Homo sapiens: one gene and its partners. The protein of the gene in region 1 purifies or fractionates together with the protein of each later gene. This does not show direct contact. Each region holds a gene or a part of one and is shown in the gene's direction. Other genes may lie near its edges.

Evidence for each region.
Region 2: the proteins of VRK2 (region 1) and RCBTB2 purify together in Homo sapiens (affinity purification with mass spectrometry; one large-scale study listed by BioGRID and IntAct). This does not show direct contact.
Region 3: the proteins of VRK2 (region 1) and NUP210 purify together in Homo sapiens (affinity purification with mass spectrometry; one large-scale study listed by BioGRID and IntAct). This does not show direct contact.
Region 4: the proteins of VRK2 (region 1) and EIF4G3 purify together in Homo sapiens (affinity purification with mass spectrometry; one large-scale study listed by BioGRID and IntAct). This does not show direct contact.
Region 5: the proteins of VRK2 (region 1) and DHX38 purify together in Homo sapiens (affinity purification with mass spectrometry; one large-scale study listed by BioGRID and IntAct). This does not show direct contact.

Annotation. Positions count from the first base shown.
Region 1 is NC_000002.12:58,088,294-58,091,814, forward strand, and holds part of VRK2 (serine/threonine-protein kinase VRK2), read left to right. Parts: intron 1-47; coding exon 48-153; intron 154-1,337; coding exon 1,338-1,430; intron 1,431-3,521. UniProt on the Homo sapiens protein: Serine/threonine kinase that regulates several signal transduction pathways.
Region 2 is NC_000013.11:48,530,263-48,534,560, reverse strand, and holds the start of RCBTB2 (RCC1 and BTB domain-containing protein 2), read left to right. Parts: upstream 1-1,480; 5' UTR 1,481-1,533; intron 1,534-2,511; exon of another isoform or gene 2,512-4,298.
Region 3 is NC_000003.12:13,329,822-13,333,342, reverse strand, and holds part of NUP210 (nuclear pore membrane glycoprotein 210 precursor), read left to right. Parts: intron 1-958; coding exon 959-1,050; intron 1,051-2,708; coding exon 2,709-2,883; intron 2,884-3,521. UniProt on the Homo sapiens protein: Nucleoporin essential for nuclear pore assembly and fusion, nuclear pore spacing, as well as structural integrity.
Region 4 is NC_000001.11:20,935,898-20,939,397, reverse strand, and holds part of EIF4G3 (eukaryotic translation initiation factor 4 gamma 3), read left to right. Parts: intron 1-3,500. UniProt on the Homo sapiens protein: Component of the protein complex eIF4F, which is involved in the recognition of the mRNA cap, ATP-dependent unwinding of 5'-terminal secondary structure and recruitment of mRNA to the ribosome. Functional homolog of EIF4G1.
Region 5 is NC_000016.10:72,103,830-72,107,350, forward strand, and holds part of DHX38 (pre-mRNA-splicing factor ATP-dependent RNA helicase PRP16), read left to right. Parts: intron 1-116; coding exon 117-302; intron 303-656; coding exon 657-797; intron 798-1,197; coding exon 1,198-1,308; intron 1,309-1,402; coding exon 1,403-1,519; intron 1,520-1,687; coding exon 1,688-1,795; intron 1,796-2,175; coding exon 2,176-2,288; intron 2,289-3,510; coding exon 3,511-3,521. UniProt on the Homo sapiens protein: Probable ATP-binding RNA helicase. Involved in pre-mRNA splicing as component of the spliceosome.

The DNA of each region.
Region 1 (3,521 bases):
GCATTACTTTCTCAGGATGATCTCTTTTTGATGCTTTTTTCTTACAGTTACAGATTTATGGTAATGGAAAGACTAGGAATAGATTTACAGAAGATCTCAGGCCAGAATGGTACCTTTAAAAAGTCAACTGTCCTGCAATTAGGTATCCGAATGGTAAGAATTACTTATTTCGCATGCTCCATTTCCAAATTGTTTACTTCTTGCAATATAGAAATCTTTTCCCTTTGTGGAATTATTAGAGAATGAAGGATTATTGCCCTAGAGACATCAGTTATTAGGAGTAGAGGCTATTTTGGTGAAATTGATAACAATGGGCTCTGTAAGTGACAGAATGTGCTGTGTATGGCACTGCAAACTCAATTAGGCTTTGGTTCTCCAGTCTGATCTTCTTTTTCCTTAGAGCTTTGTTTTACATACCAGAACAAGCTTTCATTGCTGTAAGAATAACCTTTCTTTTGTCAGTTATAACAATGCAAATTATGGCAAAATATATTGTCAGACATTTTAAACATGTGATGGTAGGGGGGTGCTATGAAGTTTTTATTATGAGTTTGGGATGGTGGCAATAATTAGTTGTGACAATGAATAAAATATACTTTGCCAAAGCAGAAGCAACGAACTCTTAATAGCACTCAGGCACACATTTGTTTATACTACATATTTGTCTTATATGTTTGTATTTGGTTTGTTTAAGTCTCATTTTTTCACTTTTGAGTAGCATGAAGCTGCTTATGCCAGATTGGAATGCAGCAAATAGAATGCATTAATTTTCTCATTTATCCATCCTCGAAGCCAGCAAATGTTTATTGAGTACTAAGTGTATGTAACATGCAAGGCTGAAGGGCTTTAGAGATGAAGCTAAGGAGTTTTCTATTACCATACAGAGGAAGAATACCTTTCCCTTTGCTCATGGACATGGCATTTTGTTCTGAGATTCTCAAGGCTTGATTTATAATTATTGCTTAGGTGAGGAATTGCTGAGTGGGCTTCAAGATTATTTCACCATAGATCTCTGATTTTATGCTATGTTTTTCCTCTTTGTGCAGTGCGGTTTGGCTACTGGGCTATCAGGAATTAGGCATAAGCATTTTTGAATCTTGATTTTCTTCCTTTGGAACTTCAACTAAAATACTTGATTTTTGAGGATCATTTTACTTTTTTCTAGGATGAGCAACCAGAAGATGTGATATTTTAGAATAATTAACCAGTAATTGTGAAATACATCGCTTTGTCAATGTTAATATGAAAAAACCCATGTTATTCTATATTCAAAATGTTGAAATTGATCATGAGTTCTAAATAGCAGTAAACCTTATTTTATCTATTTATTTTCACAGTTGGATGTACTGGAATATATACATGAAAATGAATATGTTCATGGTGATATAAAAGCAGCAAATCTACTTTTGGGTTACAAAAATCCAGACCAGGTAAATACATACTTTTGCTTTTAATAAAGGTCTTTAATGTATGAAACTGAAACATTCAGAAAACAAACTTCTAACCCAGAAGAGTTTACAAATGAGGGCGTAACATGATGAATGTTGTAATTTATCTTACCTGCTTATCTAATTTAATCTTTGTACCAAACTAATGAGTAATTAGGATGAGAAACTGAGAGTCAGAGGGGTTAAATAATATGTTAATGGGCACACAGTTAAGAAGTGGCTGAGCAGGAATTTGAATTTCTGAGCAAATATAGATAAGCAAAGAACCATCAAAATCCAGTGGGAGTAGAGATGGATTTATGTAGAGGTTAAAACACTGTCATATTAGTTCATCATTTCCTACTGTATAACCAATTAAGTTTTAAGCAGAGAGGCCGGGCGCGGTGGCTCATGCCTGTAATCCCAGCACTTTGAGAGGCCGAGGTGAGTGGATCACCTGAGGACAGGAGTTTGAGACCAGCCTGGCCAACATGGTGAAACCCTGTCTCTACTAAAAATACAAAAATTAGCTGGGTGTGGTGGTGGGTGCCTGTAATCCCAGCTACTCAGGAGGCTGAGGCAGGAGAATTGCTTGAACCCAGGAGGCGGATGTTGCAGTGAGCTGAGATGGTGCCATTGCACTCCATCCAGCCTGGGCAACAAGAGAGAAACTCCATCTCAAAAAAAAAAAAAAAAAAAAAGTTTTAAGCAAGCTTTTCCATTAAAATTTTGTGTAATGATGAAAATATTCTGTTTGACTGTCCAATATGGTAGCCATTAGCAGTATGTGGCTAAGTACTTAAAACGTGGTCAGTACAGTACCAACTGCTGATGAGTATTTGGAGTAACAGGAACTCTCATTTGTTGCTCATGGAAATTTGTTGCTAATGGAAATGCAAAATGATACAGCCACTTTGGAAGACAGTTGGGCAGTTACTTAGAAAGCTAGACACTCTTAACATACCAAGCAGCAGTTGTGCTCATTAGTATTTACCCAAATGAGTTGAAAACTTACATCCACACAAAAACCTGCACGTGAATGCTTGTAGTCGGTTTATTCATACTCGTCAAAACATTGAAGTAACCAAGATGTCTTTGAGTAGGTGAATGGATAAACTGATACATCCAGATAATGGAATATTATTCATTGCTAAATAGAAATGAACTTTTCAGCCATGAAAAAACATGGAAGAAACCTAAATGTATTTTACTATGTAAAAGAAGCCAATCTGAAAAGGCTAGTTACTATACAATTTCAACTATATGACATTCTGGAAAAGGCAAAACTATAGAGACAGTAAAAAGATCAATTTTTTACTATCTCCATAGGTTAGAAGGGAGAGGAAGGATGAATGAGTGAAGCACAGTGGATTTTTAGGTCAGTGAAACTATTCTGCATGATACCATAATGGTGAATACATGTCATCATTTGGTTGTTAAGATCCATAGAATGGACAAGACCAAGAGTGAACATAATGTAAACTGTGGCTTTTGGATGATAAGGATTGTCATTCTTGGTTCATTCACTATAAAAAATGTGCTACTCTAGTGAGGGATGTTGATAGCGGAGAGACTTTGTGTGGGCTTGAGGTATATGGGAACTCACTGTATTTTCCACTCAGTTTTACCTACATTGCTCTAAATTTACCTAAATCAAACCTAAAACTTCTCTAAAAAATATAGTCTGTTTAAAAAATGTAGATTATATTTTTAATATTAAAATATTAATATTGACAAACTGAATTTTTAATTTAACTTAATTTAAACTTAAATAACAATATACCTAGTTGTTACTGTATTATCACGTTTAAAGAGTTAAATGATTGAGTCTATAAAAAATTAGAAAAAATGTAATTGAATATTTGATCTCTGCATTGGTTAAATTTCTTAATAAAAATTTTTTCAAAATGAAAGGTGAATGAGAAACTGGGAAATAGATAGATAACAAATATTTGAGAATATCTAGCCGGTACTAAAAAAAAAATTAAGAAAAACACTAAATACCTTGTTAAAGCGATGATCGAAAAGAATGAATAAACAGAACAGAGAAGGAATATGACTGTCCTAGAAACAGGAAAAAAGGCTACCTTTGTG
Region 2 (4,298 bases), on another chromosome or scaffold:
CTTCAGCTGAAGCACACCGTAAGGCCTGCATGAACTTCAGCTGTCCATAATGCGTAAAAGACCAAGTGCGCAAGGCAAACAGATCTTGCCATGGTTGCTGATGAAAGAAACTTAATCTCTTGGGGCCTGAGTTGCCTTATCTGTAAAGTAAGGATAATCCTTGCCTTACAGGATTATTGTGAGCTCCAAATAAGATAAACCTCTTGGCACACAATAGGTGCTTAAAAAAAAAATGCCAGCTATCATCACTGAAGTGAGCTTTTTCTGAGAGCAAACCTGTTTAACTCATAAATTTCTTTCATTGATAAGATGTAACCAGTGGAGAAACTTGGGGCAGGCACACGATGCCTCTCTGCACTATCGCTGCAACTTCCTGTTAATGTATACTTACTTTTTCTTCCATTTAGAGCTCTACAAGAAATACCTGTGTACCATTTTGCGTGCCTCCTTCTGAGGCTCAGTGGGCTATGCTCAGAGAATAGAGATAAATGTCTGCCCTATGTAGCAGAAAGGCAGTTATACATTTTAGAATGATGTTTTTCCGAAGAAATGACAAAAGCCAGACGAAACAGACTGACACGGTCACTGTGGTTTGGAATGTTAGTTTTTCTCTTTGGCTTTACTACTTTTGGCTCTACACTGTAGAGGAACCAGTGTCCTCATGAAACAGCCAGTATAAAAGCAAGTAGCTTACTTCACAGGAATAGCTAATAACATTTAATTGTTGAGCATTTAACCAAAACCCACTCAGGTCAATTTAAGTGTAGTGCAGTGGAAGAAATTATTGCACACTGCAAAGTTGTGGTGCATTTTACTTAAATCTACAAAGGCCAACAGAAGTGCAGTGTAATATAATAAATTACTGCAAAATATAATCATAAGGGGAGAAGGTGGCTGTTTTCGAAGCCCTTGGCCCCAAGGTAACTGAGGTCATCCCCCTGAACCCCCCAGCACACATCCTCATTATTTCAGCATTTGTACTACAGGGGGCTACAAGACTTCCGCCCCACAGCAATGGGGTGAAAACGTGAAGTGATCGGAGCCCCCAGATAGAGGGGCCAGCAATAGAAGAAAAGCTGGGGCAGGCTGGAGGAGAGGGGCTGTGGAAAAGGTTGCTCTCAGCATCATACACGCCTTATCCTTCTAGGTCGGGTATCCACAAATTCCCAAAATTTGCGAGAACATAACCCTGGAGAAGGTGGGGGTGACCCACGGAGGAACTCCCTGGAAAAGCGGAGGCGGCCCCAATGGGAGACTCCCGGGGGTCAACTCCGAGGGGAGGGGGCGTCTGCGAGAAAGGGGAGGGGCGGCGGTGGGCAGCCTAGGGAGGAGAGGAGGGGCGAGACGCCGTCGCCAGCCCCCTCCTCTTGTCTGCGCTCCCTTCGTTTCCGTCTCGGCCGGGCACCCGAGCGCATCCCGCCGAGGCCGGGCCGTTTCAGGGGGAGGCGCCAACTCATCGCGGCGCCGGGCCCCTGACCGTGCAGTAACCGCTACCCAGGAGGCGGAGCGGACAAGGCTCCGGCCTGCGAGGAGGTAAGAGGGTGGAGGAGTGGTGTGGGAGGCCGAGGGGGATCGCGGCCGTGACGTGGGATGCTGTCAGGTACCACTGGGGCAGGCCACCCCTCCCCGCCCCTGCGGCCCGACCTCCCCGCCAGAGACAGCTGAGGGGCCCAGGGGACTAGAGCCGCGACCGTGCCACAGGCCTAGGCGTCGTCGCGCATGCGTAAAACTGCTGGCGGGAGTTAAGAGCTAGGTTCCGGGGCTACACCCAGCCCAGGCCGCAGGCAGAGGCGGCCCTGCGCATGCGCAATTCCGCTGGCGTGGGCCCGGTGCGCTGCTCGCGACTACATCCTGCCCAGGCCGCCGGCCCAGGCTGCGCTGCGCATGCGCGAGTCCTCTGGTAGGGGTCGCGTTTGGCGTCGTTCCAGGGTGATCATCTGCTCGGAGGCCGCTCTCATCCTAAGCTCCCACGTCTGGTGTGGCTGGGGGGGCGTCACAGGTCCCGAGGGAGCGTCCTGCCTGAAGTTTCTCCCTCCTAACCCACTCGCTGCACTGCATATGTTGCCGATGTTTTCATTTCTGTGGCCTCGACCCCTAGGCTCCCGTCCCATAAATCTAGTACCCCAGGTCCCGGGCACCGGCCCGGCTCACTAACTCAGTGGCAGTATATGCTTTCGACATTTGGTCCTGATGTCCAGGAATAGCGCGAAAAGTTTGACTTTGTTAGGCGAAGCCGTTTTGGAACTGCGGAGGGATGGGAAGAAATCGCCGAGCGTCTTAAGCCGCAACATAGTGCTCTGCTCAGCCCTGGAAATAGAGGTTTTCAGACATTGAAAACTTTCCAAGTGCTCCGTCTTGGCGGAGAAAGAACTGAGTTGGAAGGCTAATTTAGAATGAACTTTTTGCTTTTGTTCTTTGCAAAAATTACATAAAATGTTGCAACAGTTCGAGACCAGGACTATAACAAAACGCATTTCATGGAGCTACTTTGTACCGCGCTTGGCGACTTACCTTGTCAGAGCTGAATAAAAGTGGTTGAGTTCACAAACAGTGCTCTGGATCGTTGCTCTTTCCCCCAGACACTGTTTAACGTTTATTGAGCCTCCTGGCTTTGCACCTTCCTAGTATTGCGTTCCTGCTGGGTTTTACACCTTACTAGACAGTGGGTCTTAGTTAAGTCAGTTTCGTGACTCCTGGGGCTACTGTGAAGAGTTTCTAACAATGTCATTACTCTGTGCTTTGTAATCTTATATGATGTGCTGATACAGATATTTGGGGGCTGGAATAGAAGAGCCACTTAGGCTCAGAGAATGAGTATTCTAGGTGAAACGTAATCTCTTTATTTCCTGCTAGACAGTACATGCGTGTTATTAAGCAGCAGGTAAAAGCAACAAGAATGATACGTTCTTGCATACCCCACTTCCACCACTCAGGCCTTATTGCTCTTGCTGGGCTCGCCAAGCGGACCCTCATCCCAGGGCGTCTGCGTTTGGTATTTCCAGTATGCTCAATGCTCACTTTCCCACTCTTCGCAAATCTGCATGGCACAGAACTTTATTTAAGTCTTGAAACAATTGCCATCATTTCAGAGAGGTGACTACCTCACCTAAAATGTCTGGCTCTCCAAACTCTTGTACTGCTGGTTCGGCTTTGTAGCACTTAATCACCATCTGATATTATATATTTGTAAGGGTATGATCAATCTATCTCCACCATAATTGAAGCTCAGAAGGTATTTGTTAATTGTAGAAATAAAATTGGAAACTAACTTACTCCAGAGATATTTTTTTACTGAACTCAACCTAGATTCATTCATTTATTCAACAAAAATTGATTTTCTATCACGTCCTGTCCTTGATGCTTGGGATGCATCAATGAACAAAAGAGACAAAGATCCCTTCCCTCTGGAGCTTACATTCTAGCAAAGAATGATAAAAAACATATTTGTATATTAGGTTAGAAAAGTACAAATGCTATGAAAAAATGAAAAAGGAGAACAGAGAAAGGGAATTGGGAGTGCAGGTGTGGGTTGCAATTTTAAACATCATGGGTACGGTGAGTCTGAAGGATAAACCAAAGGTGATGTTTAACATGGGGAACTGGGTTTTAGAAATAAATGTTCTTCTGGGAGAAAACGTTCTTTATCGTGCTCTACAATGTCTTTTATGGGAGCCCACGGCATGACCCTTGTGATAAACGTCACCATTTTTTATAGTATATAGGTGAAAAAACATTTTTTTCCTAAATAAGAGTTCAAATTATTCAGGAGTTTACAGTTTAACTTAGCACATCAAATGAAGACACTGGACTTTTACAAGGAAGAGCTAGCCAGACATCTATGTAAATTGTGCTGAGAAAAACTGTACGTTGTCTCCACAGTTTTTGCAATTGCTTCTAAATGTCCCTCTGACTGTGGATGACTAGTGAAGATCTTTTCTAAGAATGGTCATTGCTTTTCTGTATTTGAAACTGTGTAGGAGAGGAGCTTAAATCACCTGGTGTGATGTTATGCTATAAATGACCTCTCTTACAGGTATCTGAATGAACCAGATAGACCTAACTAAATTTCAATCCATAATTAAAGAAGGCTTAGAGAAAGAGGGTGATGGAGAGGAATAATTTTAGAAAGTAAAGTGTGTTTCCCCTCATGTCCTTTACTTACATAGATTACAAATACTCTGTTCAAACACCAAAATATTATTAATCTAGGACCATAAATGTAAGGAGTCCATGGAATTTGCTTATGCCCTATGAAATTGTCATATTCAAGTTTGGTTTTATCAGTTGGTTAAAGTAAA
Region 3 (3,521 bases), on another chromosome or scaffold:
GTTGCCCCTGAGCCAGGCTGGGAGGCCGAGGAGGCAGCAGCCCTGAGGGGCCTGAGAGAGGGGACTTACACAGGTGGTGGACACATCTGAAGTCTTGCAGAGAAGGGGCCTGGAGTTCCCAGGTAAGTGCTGTTGCCATGGGCTCGGGGAGCCACCAGGGCCTTGGAGCACTTGGGCGTCCCAGGATCAGATCTGAGCCGACCTCATGAGGCTGATCATTTGCCGGACTGAGCTCCTCACCAGGCCCCTGTGTGTGTCTATGTGGATCCTGCAAGAACATGGCCAGAGCCAGCCAGAGGAGCCTGGGAGGTGGAACGGGGGTTGTTCTGAGATGGTGGCAGTGAGGAGCAGGATGTCTCTGTGAGAGAAGGGAGCAGTTCGGTGGCACCTTGCCCAGGCTCAGTCCTGGCACAGTTATCCTGAGCAAACCCTGGTGCTGGAGTTGTGTGTGCTGCCCTCCGCGCTCACATCCTGGCAGGTAAAGTTCTTCCTCACTGGGCACGGAGGGAGAGGCCTGTGTTTCCAGGCTCCTTGAAGGAGCTCCCATTAGACTACACAAACATGAGCCTGCCTGTCTTTTCTCATCATATCTTTGGCCATGTGTGTGTGTGTGTGTGAGATAGGGTCTTGCTCTGTTGCTCAGACTGGAGTGCAAGCCTCAGCCTCCCAAGTAGCTGGGACTACAGTTGCACACTCCATGCCTGGCTAATTTTTAAAATTATTTTGTAGAGACTGAGGGTTTGCTGTGTTGCCTTGGCTGAGCTACTCTACCCGGCCACACCTTTGGCCTCTTAAAGGTCAGCCCTTCACATCATGTCATCAGTGACCTGACAGACGAGAAAGCCGCTTTTCTCCTCTCTGGCCCCTCCTCGGCTCTTGCTGCTAGGAGAGAAGCAGACATCTGGCCTGAATGTGACTCCAGTGCCCCATCGGAAGTGAAACTTGCCCTCTCTTGCAGGTGTTTGAGAAGCTGCAGCTGCTCAACCCTGAAATAGAAGCAGAACAAATATTAATGTCGCCCAACTCATATATAAAGCTGCAGACAAACAGGTACGTGACTCAGCTCTTGTTTCCAGCAAAGTTGTGCGGCTGTGCTTGCATCCGACACCTCATGTGTCAACACTGTCAGGAGCCATGGGTACTTTCAGGGAGGTTTTCTCCTGCTGTGCTTGGAATGGGTGAGGCCTCTGCCTGCTCCTTCTCTTCTCTGTGGTGCTCCTCTGCTTCTTGAAATCACTTCTCACTGTGGGTCTCTTTTTCCTCCTTGTAGCCTAGAAACATTTTTATGCGAGGTACTAAAATTCAGTCTTTAAAAGGGAAAAAAACACCAGCTTAGAAATGTTGTGTTTCAAGACTTGCCACTCAGAGTGTAGCCCATGAGCCAGAAGCATCAGCATCACCGGGAAGAGAAGATGCAGCTCTCAAGCCCCACCCCAGACCTGCCCAGGGAGAAGCTGCACCCTAGGGAGATCCCCAGGCGAGGGGGCCGCACAGTAACGCTTGGGAAAAGCTGTTTAAAGCTCTTCTGCAAACCTAATTCCTACCTTTGATTCCAAGGGGATGCCTTTCGTAACAGTGGCTTGCATTTGAATGGCAGTTGCCAAGCGGGAGACTCCACGGGCCACAGGACACTTACATGTTGCATGAAACACATACATGTTTTCATTCAGCCAAAAGTAACAAAGTGCCAGGCTCCATGCTGGGCTCCAGGAACACAGATATGGGTGACATAGGGTGCCCCGGAGGAGGGTAGCAGGAGAAGGCTATTAAAAAGCAAGGTGTAGTATTCAAACCAGAGCCCAAAGAAGGGTGCTGTCCATGGGGATTTAGGGGAGGCATGTCCCAGATGGAGATGCTCGGGCTGCAGTTCTTGAAGGATGAATAAGAGTTCCCCAGGTTAAGAGGAAGGGGTTGGTGGGGGAAGAATGTTTAGGCAGAGGCAATAACATTTGCTCCTAGTCATCTATAGGGCTGTGGAAGAGACAGAGATGATGGAAACTAGCCGTGGGAGCTGGAGGCCTTTGCTTCCTGGGTTTCTTTATTATATTAATAAATATGTAAAAGGGTAACAGATACGGCATAATTTGCTTCCTACCCAGTACATAGTATCAGTAGTTTGCTAACAGTTTTCTTAGCGGGTAGTCTGTTTTTATCCTGTTGACAGTCCTTAGAAATAGGACAAGACAGGATCATTACACACCTTTTACCAAGTAAGAAGTCAACGCCGAGAGAAGAGGGGACATAATGTGCACACAGCTGGTGGCAGGACATGTTGGGACCGGCTTTGGATTCTGTCGGACTCAAAGCCCCATCCTCCACTATGCCAGGATGCCTTGCTTCAGTAAATTGAGAACAATTTGCTGCAGAAATGATATTTTACAGTAGATGTCCCATGGAGCTGATGAAAGAAACTGCCCTCATAGTCTCTCCCTCCCTGCTGGCTGACCCACGGCAGGCACTGCTCTGGGAAGAGTGAGACGCCACACTTTGCTCGGAACCATTGGATTTCTGAATTACTTTTCCGTGGGTGACTGATGAAGCCTCAGACAACTGACGGCACGTGGTCCTGAGGTCCGTGGGGCCAAGATTGGGCCTTTTTTCCTCCCAGGAGCATGAGGAGCCACAGACTCTTAGATCTCCTGGCATTGTATCCAGGCCCACTCCCACTGCTGCCATCTACAAAAACAGCTCTGTTTTGTTTTCCAAAGGGATGGTGCAGCCTCTCTGAGCTACCGCGTCCTGGATGGACCCGAAAAGGTTCCAGTTGTGCATGTTGATGAGAAAGGCTTTCTAGCATCAGGGTCTATGATCGGGACATCCACCATCGAAGTGATTGCACAAGAGCCCTTTGGGGCCAACCAAACCATCATTGTTGCTGTAAAGGTAGGGTTGCATTCTCCTCCTTTTTGGAGTAATGAAAGCAATAGCACTGAGGTAATATGCCTCTCAGGTGTAAAAGTGAATACGTTCACCTTCCAGCTAAGAAACTGTAGACAGGCATTTAGAGTAACTCAGGGGCAAAGGTCCTAGGTAGATAAAAAGCTACAGCATCTTCTGGTCATCAGAGCCGAAGATCCTTGGGAAATCATTGATTCCAAGAACTTCATTTCATAGATGAGGCCCAGCAAGGTCCATGATTGGCGTAAGGTTACAGAGCTGGGACTGGCACCACAGCTTCCTGACTGGAGTGCGGGTGCTCCACCCACTGTGCCTGGCCACTGATGTTATCACCACCCATGGTGGAGCTCCTGTTCTGGGCCAGCCCAGTGTCTGGAACATGGTCTGTTCTTAAGAGCATTGAATGTTGTGCTCAGTACCTGCCATACAAGTCGTGACATCCAGTACGTGACATCCACTGTGGTTTTGAGAATGAGGTGGCCCATTTTCCAGACAAGGAGACTGAGGCTCAGAGTGAGAGTGACTTGCTTAAGCTTGCATGGGGGTTGAGTGATGGGGTCTGTCTGGTTTGGGCCGTGTCCTTCTGCCATATCATGGCACTGCCCTCTGCCGTTCTGTGTTCC
Region 4 (3,500 bases), on another chromosome or scaffold:
ACACCAGCACCTTAATCAAAGAGTATAGACTCTTCAGTGGTAATCCAGAGAGCACTTAGAAAAGAAAGAACTGTTTTTTTAATGACTTGGAATAACAGAGGTTTGTGATGTTGGGAGGTAAAGTTTCTTGGCATTTTTCTAGTCTCCTGATTTTTTAACCTATGTGTTTAAGGGAATTACAAGTTTTATAATTTCCTTGTACATCTTAATAGTCTTCAAAATCCAACAGTAAATGAACTTCAAGAACCCCTGCAACTCTAGCTTTTTTTTTTTTTTTTTTTAATTTTTTTTAAGATGGAGTCTCGCTCCATCGCCCGGGCTGGAGTGCAGTGGTGCAATCTCGGCTCACTGCAACCTCTGGCTCCCAGGTTCAAGCAATTCTCCTGCCTCAGCCTCCTGAGTAGCTGGGATTATAGGCGTGTGCCACCACGCCTGGCTTATTTTTGTATTTTTAGTAGAGACGGGGTTTCACCTTGTTGGTCAGGCTGGTCTCGAACTACTGACCTTGTGATCCGCCCGCCTCAGCCTCCCAAAGTGCTGGGATTACAGGCATGAGCCACCACACCTGGCCAGCAGTTTGTAAATTATAAAGCCTCAGAAGCATTTCTGACCCATTCATTTCTGTCCGAATATTTTTTAATGGTTTTGTCACAAAAGTTAACAATGAAAATTAAAATTACCTCCAGTCTTTAAGTATATCCACCTGACGTGGTCATATGCTTAATGACTATAATTTATTTGCACTTATTCACATAATATTCACTTATTATACCTTGTTTACTTTGAGAAGTTAGTAAATCATAACAGCCGTTTACTTTGAGAAGTTAATAAATTGTAACACCAAAACAGTCTGGTTTGCCTATGAGTCTTTTGGTGGTGACTTTTGAGAATAGTTTTTACTTGTCTCTGCCTGAGGATGAAACACCTCAAAGCTGGCTTCAGAAACCTGATACATAAATAACATATCAGTTGGTATAGAGATAGTTGGTTAAAGCAGTAAAGTTATAACATAAGGGATATGGTATCTTTTAGTTCTGCTGCAAAACATTTTCTTGTAACTATTCTAGATCATATTTCTGAGTGAATAAAAATGCATCAGTTGAGGCCGGGCGCGGTGGCTCATGCCTGTAATCCCAGCACTTTGGGAGGCTGAGGAGGGTGGATCACCTGAGGTCACGAGTTTGGGACCAGCCTGGCCAACATGGTGAAACCCCGTATCTACTAAAAATACAAAAATTACCCAGGAGTGGTGATGCGCCTGTAATCCCAGCTATTCTGGAGGCTGAGGTGGGAGAATTGCTTGAACTTGGGAGATGGAGGCTGCAGTGATCCAACATCGCGCCACTTCACTCCAGCCTAGGCAACTGAGCAAGACCCCATCTTAAAAAAAAAAAGAAAGCATCAGTTGTTTTCGGATTGAAGAACAAGCTCTGTAAAATTAGAATTTGGTGTGTATATATCTTCAGTGTACTCTGAAAAGCCTCAGTTATTGGCCACACTTTTAATATCACCGTCACTTTAGTAATTAAATGCATAAAACTAGATATTAATTGGATGATATATTAAAGTCTTGGGAATTTTTATTGTTTATTCTCTGTATCTGGTGGGAGGAAAAAGGAGTGTTTTGAACTTGTGGGAAAGCATTCCCCATTAATCATCCAGGAGTTTGTTTTCTACAATTTTAGGAATGTATATGATGTATAGTATGTAACATTAACTTTCCCACTTTTTAAAAGAATTGTGACTTTTTTATTTTATTATTTTTACCTGTATCAGATATAAAACCATTATTTAAATTTTCTTAGGCAGAGGGAGATTTCTAATTTTTCTATTTATTTTGTTTTTTTGGCTCTTGCTTATAGTACATTTTTAATGTATATTTTGTAAGTTTGTTTTATGAACTTATCCAGATAAATTTTCCTGGATGTAGATTGATGGCAAGTTATTCTAAAGCAGATTTGTGTTTACTTTATCTGCTGCATGTCTTGGGGAAAGCATTTGCTGGAACTAAATCTGGGTTTAATGTTTGTTAGAACTAAATCTGGGTTTAATGTCCTAAAGCTACAGTTCTATCCCAAAGCCTAAGGACAGCCATACCGTATGGCTTGGATACTAATTTTCAGGGTAACAGCAATCTTCTCTCCATCCAGTTGAAACAACGTCCTTTCTCATCATCACTGTGTTGGTTCAGTGGTTTATTCCCTCTCTCTCTTTTTTAAGCTATCTTTTCACTGAGCATGTCACCCATTTGGGAGTCTCAGAGCTTTATGTGAGCATCTCAGTTCCAGGTTCCCACTTTGCAGGGATCCAAGATCTCTCTTTTCTTATGGGTGTTAAAAATACAAATTCATTGGTTATAGAGACTGGCACACCCTTCTACACCCCCAGGAATGTAAGGATGGCATCAGCCACTGACCTGTAGTTTACCTTATATTCTCGTAAGCTCAGCTAAGGATGTAGAAGGGTTTCCAGATTCTGTAGAATATAACATAGGAAGTTTATTTCTCAAATGGAGATACGATTATATGTTTTGGTAATGTTAACAAAATACTGATCCATGTAGCCAATCAAGTTGCTGCTTTCTCTTTTAGTTTAGACTTACTGAAGTGTAAAGGGAGCATACTTCAGTGCAAGAAAAATATTTTAATAACAACCCTTGCTTTATTCTCAACTGTGAGAGTATTCAGAGTACTTTCAAAGAAATAAACATAGCAAACATAAAACCAGAGATATAAAAGTCTATCAGTTTTCCTAGATTAAACTAAAAATGACTAATCTTTTAAATAATAAAATTTATTCTAACCTTTGCTCAACTTACATATTCTAAAATATATTTGAAATATCTCTGGAAGATTTAGTCGCTGGGGCCAAAAGTAGATTGCCAATGGTTTGAGTATCCTGTTGGCCTAATCACTATACTACTATGCATCCTTATAATTTAGCTTCTACAGAAACGTGTTCTGGAAACATGGAAACAGGACTCCTTACACATTCCTGGTTCTTTGTCATCTACCAAAACAAGCAGAGTGATCCTTAAAGCAAGGACCATTGGCTTCAGTTTTCAGAGGCTTGAGTCTGAGTGATCCTTAGGGATAAATAAAGGTTTTCTCCACCTTGTTTGTAAACTGTTTCCAACAAAGCTGCCTAAAAGGTATGTTTCTGCCATCCCATTCCTATTTTCTTGTTTCCCTCCCCAGTAAACTCTTAGGCATTCCTTGGAAAATACTGATGCTGGTCAAATTCTTTTATATACTGCAGAATGAGCCCAGACACCTGTTAGTTGAGCCTGTTGGCAAGTCCCTTACGTAGTTCTTCCTTGCCTCTTTATGTGGGATAGATTTCCCCATTTTTTACAGTAGTTCATGTCTTTCATCATGAGCCCTAAAGTCTCAGTCATTGGGTATTAACTTAGTTCTACATCTTTCTGAGTAGTTATACTTTGTTCAAAATGTAGCTCCCTTTTCCCCACATTTAGTAACTAATCCTCCTCCATGACAAAG
Region 5 (3,521 bases), on another chromosome or scaffold:
TAGCTTCCACCCATTTTTGCTAAAGGGTGTGATCTGCTAAGACTCGGACCCCAGTACGGGGTGTGCTGGTGGTGAGCCGGTGGCCAGGGCATCTGAGCCATCTCTCTGACCTCCAGGTGGGCTATGCCATCCGCTTTGAAGACTGCACTTCAGAGAACACCTTGATCAAATACATGACTGACGGGATCCTGCTCCGAGAGTCCCTCCGGGAAGCCGACCTGGATCACTACAGTGCCATCATCATGGACGAGGCCCACGAGCGCTCCCTCAACACTGACGTGCTCTTTGGGCTGCTCCGGGAGGTGAGGGCTGTGTGGTTTGGTCTCTCTGCGCATGGGGTGTTGACCAGTGCACCACCAGTAGCTAGTGGGTTGCTCCAGGTGGGCTGAGGGGGTCTCTGGTAGGCCAGAGGTTCCTGAGGCCTCTGGTTGCAGTTCAGACTCGGGTTGTAGTTCATGCTGTTCTTGCTCTGCTGAGGGTGGCTTGGGGTTTTCTGGGCAGTGGCTCCATTGCTTCAGTCTTCATGATTGGTAAGAATTGAATAGGCCCATTTGTCAGCTTTGGCTTGTGTTTCCTCGGGGGTGGTGCTGATGGGACTGGGGGACAGGAGCCAAGGGTCCCCACCATGGGGGCCTCCGAGCCGCCTCTTCTCTCAGGTAGTGGCTCGGCGCTCAGACCTGAAGCTCATCGTCACATCAGCCACGATGGATGCGGAGAAGTTTGCTGCCTTTTTTGGGAATGTCCCCATCTTCCACATCCCTGGCCGTACCTTCCCTGTTGACATCCTCTTCAGCAAGGTATTGAGGCCACCATGTTACGAACTGACCCTTCCATGCCACGCACTTCTCTGATGCGAAGCCGGCTGGAGGGTGGAGGGTGGGTAGGGGACTGGGTTGGAGAAGATTTCCTGGGGACCATGGGGCAAATGGGGCAGCCTGCAGCTCTGGGACTCGGGGACAAAGGACTCTGCTCTGGGTGAGGTTTTGTTTCATTATTTCTTTGAGGCTGAAGTACAGGGCCCAGGGAGGCACTGTGCCCTCTTGTAGAGGCCTCGCAGTCAGGCCCATGTGGAGGTGTGGTGGCCCTCAAAGTCCATGGCTCCATTCCAGAGCAGTGCCTGGGCCACTGGGCTCCCAGGAGATGCCCGGCCTGCGCTTCTAGTACCTCCCTCTGACTGTGTCCCCACTGCTGTTGCAGACCCCACAGGAGGATTACGTGGAGGCTGCAGTGAAGCAGTCCTTGCAGGTGCACCTGTCGGGGGCCCCTGGAGACATCCTTATCTTCATGCCTGGCCAAGAGGACATTGAGGTGCGTGCCTTGGTCACGACTGTGATGAGCGGGTGTGTCTTGCATATGAGAGGTTAGGGTTCCAGTGTCTCACAGCTCCTCCCTGGGCTCTCAGGTGACCTCAGACCAGATTGTGGAGCATCTGGAGGAACTGGAGAACGCGCCTGCCCTGGCTGTGCTGCCCATCTACTCTCAGCTGCCTTCTGACCTCCAGGCCAAAATCTTCCAGAAGGTGTGTCAGCAGGAATGTCCAGGAGTGGCTCTTGGAGTTCTCTAAAGGAAGCGAGAGGGGATGTGACTGTCCTGGCAGGGGGTGGGCTAGGAGGTAGGCTTTTCCCCCTCGCGGAGCCTTTCCTGTCTCGAGGGACTCATTTTTCCCTTCCTGTATGTCCTGCTCTAGGCTCCAGATGGCGTTCGGAAGTGCATCGTTGCCACCAATATTGCCGAGACGTCTCTCACTGTTGACGGCATCATGTTTGTTATCGATTCTGGTTATTGCAAATTAAAGGTAAGAGAAGACATGGGAGGCAAGGCCTGGGTGTTCACCAGAAGCTAACTTAGCTGCGGGGTGGGAAGCCAGGGCCTCGCTCCTGGCCCTGGGATGTGGGGAGCGCGTGGAAGTGGTGGTGGTGGTGGGAGGCTCACATTGACTCACTGTGCTTGGTTTGTTTAACCCTTGTAATACTCGATGAGGTAGATAATTTAACAGTAGAGCTCAGAGAGCTGGTGTTTGTGGGGAAGACTTCTTCAGGTGTTCATGAGAACATTTCTAGAGCCTCCTGGCTCTTCCTCTGCCATGTGTAGCAACCAGGGCTTGCCTTTGTCTCAGGCCTACTTCCACTTTCCCCTCACTCTGTCCTTCGTCAGCTCTTTGCCGTCCCCTCCTAGGTCTTCAACCCCAGGATTGGCATGGATGCTCTGCAGATCTATCCCATTAGCCAGGCCAATGCCAACCAGCGGTCAGGGCGAGCCGGCAGGACGGGCCCAGGTCAGTGTTTCAGGTAGGAGCCCTGTGCTAGCCTGCTTTCTGGGGCAGCGCTGGGGTTGCTGAGCGTGGAGCCCGGGCGGGGGCGGGCAGGATGCTGGCTCTAGAGCTGGTCCCCAAGGCTGGAAGCTGCTGGCAGGGCTGCCACTTGTTAGTCCTTTCATCCTATGCTACTGAGTGGAAGGAAGGAGTGGCTTTCCAGGGATTTCAGAGGTCTGAGGCCAACCTACGTGGATGTAGGTACACATGCAGGTAATTACAGCCTGCCTCCCTTCAGAGGGTAGGTCTGGACAGATGATGCCATTGGTTCTTTTTATTTCTATTGTTCTCTTTCCCCATTTTCTTTCTTTCTTTTTTCCAATTAGAGACAGGGTCTTGCTCTGTCACCCCAGGCTGGAGTGTGGTGGTGCAATCACAGCTCACTGCAGCCTTGATCTCCTGCACTCAAGTGAACCTCCCACCTCAGACTCCCAAGGGGCTGAGATTGCAGGCAGGCACCACCACACCTGGCTAATTTGTTCATATTTTGTAGAGATGGGGTCTTGCTATGTTGCCCAGGCTGGTATTGTGAACTCCTGGCTTCAAGCGATTCTTCTGTCTTGGCCTCCCAAACTGTTGGCATTATAGGTGTGAGCCACTCTGCCTGGCTCTCTTCCCCTTTTTTGTTCCAATTAAAAAAATTAATGTATTCACTATAGAGCGTTAGTGAATATAGAAAAATATCAAGAAAATAAAACCCAGCCATGATTCTAGTCCCAGGCCCATTGGTTCTAGAAATGAAACAGATGGCTGGGTGTGGTGGCTCATGCCTGTAATCCTGGCACTTTGGGAGGCCGAGGCGGGCCGATCACAAGGTCAGGAGTTTGAGACCACCATGGCCAATATGGTGAAACCCCATCTCTACTAAAAATACAAAAATCAGCTGGGCGTGGTGGCGGATGCCTGTAGTCCCAGCTACTCGGGAGGCTGAGGCAGGAGAATCGCTTAAATCCGGGAGGCAGAGGTTGGGCAACAGAGTGAGACTCTGTCTAAAAAAAAAAGAAATGAAACATGTAAGAGGCTCCAGAAGAAGGGCTAAATTGGCAGATTGGAGTTTTGAATAGGTGGAAGTCAGTGATTCACTGAAGTAGTGGGTGGGGAGAAGAAATGAGAATTTCCTCCCTCCCTGTGGGATTTCATCTGTACTGGCTGCTGTGGGGTTTCCTTGTGGTGAGAAGATGGGGTCTTCTCCCCGGCAGGCTCTACACCC